2 separate regions of the Homo sapiens genome follow, and region 2 is linked to region 1. The links come from fine-mapping of genetic effects on gene expression. Tissue or cell type: blood mononuclear cells. Region 1 holds a variant in brackets; the other region holds the start of a gene. All regions are shown on one strand. Distances are from middle to middle.

The links. PIP is the estimated chance that this variant, and not a neighbour inherited with it, causes the effect.
Region 2: it holds the start of CPOX, and the variant in region 1 is fine-mapped to the expression of CPOX in blood mononuclear cells (TOPMed, PIP above 0.99).

What each region holds. Positions count from the first base shown.
Region 1 is chr3:98,558,331-98,561,019 of GRCh38, reverse strand. No RefSeq gene overlaps it. Among named protein-coding and RNA genes, the nearest start is that of GPR15, 28 kb to the right of the region's middle. The variant T/C (reference allele first, on the strand shown) is at 1,377.
Region 2 is chr3:98,592,021-98,594,709 of GRCh38, reverse strand. It overlaps CPOX (coproporphyrinogen oxidase), which reads left to right and starts at 1,099. Exons shown (of 7, transcript NM_000097.7): 1 at 1,099-1,761. The coding sequence starts at 1,206. RefSeq lists an enhancer at 561-610 and a silencer at 1,111-1,560.

The DNA of each region.
Region 1 (2,689 bases):
AAATTGGAATTGGATCTTCCAGCCCCAGTCAGACTTTGAGATGACTGCAGTCTCTGTCAACACATTGACTACAACCCCATGAAACAGCCACTCAACTAAATTGCTCTCCAATAACTGAGACACAGAAACTCTATGAGATAATGATGTCTATTATGACTTTAAACTTTAAAGTTTTGGGGTAATTTTTAAGCACAGGAGTAGATAACTAATAGACAAACAATGTCACAATGATCATCCACGTCTACTTATTTTTGTGAGAATATAAAAAGTCTGTAAAACAAATTCTTAGGAATAGAATTGAAAATAGTTGAAAAGAGTGTGAATTTTAAATTTCACTTAATAATATGCAATTTAATTTAACAGTGTCCCACAGTGAATGAGTGGGCTTCTCCATACCTACCCTCAACATTGAAGCTCACACTATAATTTTGCCATTTTATAACTTTTAAAAAAGTTTTTTTTTTTCCAACTTGGACTTAGTTATGCAGGAGGTTGAGCATTTATAAAATATTCATTGACAATTTATATTTATATTTCTGTTAACTGCCAATTTATATCTTAACTCGCTTTATATTGAATTGATCTTTTTGCTATTAGAGCTTTTTGTATAATAAGAAAATTAGCCCTTTTTTATAAGTATGCATGTTTTTCCCCATTTTGAAATTTTTATTGTAACATAGTTTATACATCTTTTTAGGGCAGAAAATGTTTACTTTTTGTAGTAAAATGTATCTTTTATTTTTTCATCAATTTTTATTTTAAGTTCTGGGGTACATGTGCAGGATATACAGGTTTGTTACATAGGTAAATGCGTGCCATGGTGGTTTGCTGCACAGATCAACCTATCACCTAAGTGTTAAGCCCAACATCTATTAGTTATTATTCCTGATGCTCTCCCTCCCCCTGCTCCCATGACACACCCCAACATGTGTTGTTGCCCACCGTGTGTCCATGTGTCCTCATCATTTGGCTCCCACTTATAAGTGAGAACATGCAGTGCCTGGTTTTCTGTTCCTGCATTAGTTTGCTGAGGATAACAGCTTCCAGCTCCATCCATGTCCCTGCAAATGATATGATCTTGTTCCTTTTTATGGCTGCGTAGTATTCCATGGTGTATATGTATCACATTTTCTTTATCCAGTCTATCATTGATGGGCATTTGGGTTAATTCCATGTCTTTGCTATTGGGAATACTGCTGCAATAAACACATGCATGCATGTATCTTTAAAATAGAATGATTTATTTTCCTTTGGGTATATACCCAGTAGTGGGATTGCTGGGTCAAATGGTATTTCTGCTTCTAGATGTTTGAGGAATTGCCACACTGTCTTCCACATGGTTGAAATAATTTACATTCCCACTGACAGTGTAAAAG[T/C]GTTCCCTTTTCTCAGCAACCTCACCAGCATCTGTTGTTTCTTGATGTTGTAGTAATTGCTATTCTGACTTGCATGAAATTGTGTCTCATTATGGTTTTGATTTGCATTTCTCTAATATAGGTGATATTGAGCTTTTATTCATATGTTTGTTGGCTGCATGAATGTCTTCTTTTGAGAAGTGTCTATTCGTGTCCTTTGCCCACCTTTAAAAGGAGTTGTTTTTTTCTTATAAATTTGTTTAAGTTCCTTGTTGACTCTGGATATTAGACCTTTGCCCATCAGATAGATTGCAAAAATTTTCTCCCATTCTGTAGGTTGTCTGTTCACTCTAATGATAATTTCTTTTGCTGTGCAGAAGCTCTTTAGTTCAATTAGATCCCATTTGTCAATTTTTGCTTTTGTTGCAATTGCTTTTGGTGTTTTCATCATGAAATCTTTGCCTGTGCTTATGTCCTGAATGGTATTGCCTAGATTTTCTTCTAAGGTTTTTATTGTTTTGGGTTTTACATTTGAGTCTTTAATCCATCTTGAGTTTTAGTTTTGTAGAAGGTACAAGGAAGGGATCCAGTTTCAATTTTCTGCATATGGCTAGCCAGTTCTCCCAGCACCATTTATTAAATAGAGACCCTTTTCCCATTGCTTGTCTTTGTCAGGTTTGTCGACGATCAGATGGTTGTAGGTGTGCAGTCTTATTTCTGAGTTCTCTATTCTGTTCCATTGGTCTATGTGTTTGTGTAAAATGTATCTTTTAGAAAAAGATTTTAGGTTTTATAAAGCTTTCCCTACCACACTGGGAATTGTTCAAAGGAAAACTCCCATATTATCTTCTGAGTTAATAAGATACTAGTTTTTTCCTACCAGTAGCAATGACTACAAAATTGGCTCTCAAAACAACAACAAAAAGCTCTGAATTGTAGTATTTGCCAATTTCCAAAGTGTAAATACTCCCATCATGTCCAATTTCAAGCTGCCCATGTGACTTCGCTGAACACAGAGTTAGGAAAAGATGTGCACAGTTGGCTCTTGCCAGCTGATATATGCCAACTCTAGCACATCACTGCACCAGAAATGTATTTTGACATAAGGGTTGAGAGAGATCCAGCTTCTTATTTTGTTCTTTTTTTCCAAACAGCTGAAGTGAATGCTGAAGTACATATAGGACTATAAATCTGATTAAAATAGCTATGCTTTTATTCCAACACAAATTTATGTCAATTATGTTCTTACCTAATATGTGATGTATATATATGTAAGCTTTGACTTCAAGGTAGGGTTTTTGAACACATGTACACAAGGAGGGGAACAACACACA
Region 2 (2,689 bases), 34 kb before region 1:
CTTGCCTAGTTTGTAGCAGTTGTTGTAAGTATTAAACGTGAGCAATATTTGGGAGCACCCTACAGTAGTAGAATAACTATTTTTTAAATTCTTATTTGTTAATCACCAAAACACACCAAGTCAGGAATTTTCTACTGGTTAACCAAAACAGTCACGTTGCTTTTCCTTTTTCTAAAATAATCAAGTAGGCACTATAGAAGCAAGGCCTGGGGAAACCTTTTTTTTTTTTTTTTTTTTCTGAGACAGAGTCTCACTCTGTCACCCAGGCTGGAGTGCAGTGGTGCGATCTCGGCTCACTACAACCTCTGCCTCCCGGGTTCAAGCGATTCTCCTGCCTCAGCCTCCCGAGTAGCTGAGCCTACAGGTGCACGCCGCCACGCCCGGCTATTTTTTTGTAGTTTTAGTAGAGACAGGGTTTCACCATGTTGGCTGGTCTCGAACTCCTGACCTCATGTGATCCAACCGCCTCGGCTTTCCAAAATGCTAGCATTACAGGCTTGAGCCACCGCGCCCGGCCCCAGCCTGGGGAAATCTTAAGGACAGAACTGTGATGTGGACTCGATCACAGAAAGTCTTCTCCTCGACTCTCTTCCGAGTCCATTACTAGCTTCTCCCACTCTCTTTAGAAAACCATCCTTCAGCAAAGAGTTTCCCAGCCTGCCCATCCCCTCTAAAAACTCTAGAGGACCAGGACCCAGGGCGAAGGGCGGGTCTATACAGATCCTGAGCCAGGCTCTGTATTCGCAAATCCTGTTTGAAAATGTAAGCGGGACTGGGATCTCTGCCACATTTCCGCCCCAGTCCGCCCTCAGCCTCCCAGCCCTACTCTATCTTCTCTCCTTGGCTGAGTAAACAGCCGACCCGAGGTTGTACGTGACAAGAAAGCCTCTTTTATCTCTCCCGTCCCTTCCACAGCACCGTCCCCGCCCCACTCTCTTCCCTTCGGACCAGCCCTTCTGGGCGCGTCGGATTCTTATCTCCCGCCCCGCGCAGGGACGCCGCAGGCGGCGATAGGATCCGGACTACAGCTCCCAGCGCGCCCCAGTTCCCGCCCCCGCCTCCGGAGCCCGACGCTGCAGCGGCTCTTCTCGAAAGGTTCTTTCCGCCTGTGCAGCTCGCCGGCTCAATACTCCGGGGGTCTGGGTGGGGGGCTCAAACGCAGGGCTCTGGGACGCAGGCACTGCTCCAGGTGATAGTGCGGGAACATGGCCTTGCAGCTGGGCAGGCTGAGCTCGGGCCCCTGCTGGCTCGTGGCGCGGGGCGGCTGCGGAGGGCCCCGCGCCTGGTCCCAGTGCGGCGGCGGAGGGCTCCGAGCCTGGTCCCAGCGCAGCGCAGCCGGACGCGTCTGCCGGCCCCCTGGCCCGGCTGGCACGGAGCAGAGCCGCGGGCTGGGGCACGGCTCGACGTCGAGAGGCGGCCCCTGGGTGGGGACAGGGCTGGCCGCGGCGCTGGCGGGGTTGGTGGGGCTGGCCACCGCCGCCTTCGGGCATGTGCAGCGGGCGGAGATGTTGCCTAAGACCTCGGGGACGCGGGCCACTTCGCTGGGGAGGCCGGAGGAGGAGGAGGATGAGCTGGCCCACCGCTGCAGCAGCTTCATGGCCCCGCCTGTGACCGACCTGGGCGAGCTGCGAAGGAGGCCGGGCGACATGAAGACCAAGATGGAGCTGCTGATTCTGGAGACCCAGGCCCAGGTGTGCCAGGCTCTGGCACAGGTAGACGGGGGCGCCAACTTTTCTGTGGACCGGTGGGAGAGGAAGGAAGGTAAGGAGGCCGGCCCCTGGCGGGAGTTGGAGACAGGGAAAAAGGGTCAGGTTCCAGGTTGCAGACAGAAAATATAATAGTTCACAATATGGGATGGGGTAGGTAGGGGGTACCCACAGAGAGGCCGCTTGGTTAGAGGCCGCTGATAAAAAGATGGACACGAAAGGGTCACTAGCCCTCTGCTTGCAGGTATGGACCCGGATCAGCTGTCACTGTAGTACTGCATTTCAAAATCTTTGCAATTCCGTAGCAGCATTTTTTTGTAGAACTCTTAAGGGGTATTTGCAGCTAACAAGCTTAGATGTCCAAAGTTCGTTACTGAACATAAATTTCAATAGATTATGGAACACATTTTCTCTCCTTCTCTGGGTGAATTTGCCCTTTTTCCTCTTTAGGAGATGGAAAGAACTCATCTCCTGTGCGCTAAGTGTCGGCTAAACTCCTCCAGCCAGGATGTCATTGTGTCAGAATCTTCCCACTTCTTTTTACTGTTACACAAGATATATTTGATTCGTTTCTCAGTAGCACTACCAAATGCACGCATCAGATTTCCTGCTAGGAAAATCTTCTCTTCCAATATCAAAATACTTGAGCATCAAAACCCAGTTCTCGTAGAGGCGTACATTCATGACCATGTTGTTGCCCATACAGTGAAACCCCACATCTTGAGTGGAAACTTGAAAGATTCCTGACTTTTCCTAGCTGGAAATACAACAGCAGCTTCTCACCGGCAGATTTTGAGCTGTGATACTGACACATCTATATTAAATGAAGTTCAGTCTAGTTTTCCATCTTATGTTTTCAAGCAAAGACCACTGAACCAGGACACAACCTCAAGTACTAGACCAGCTGTGTGATCCTCAGAAGTTACTTTTTTATGGCTGTTTTCCCATCTATGAAATATATATGTATTTCATCTCTTTTAATC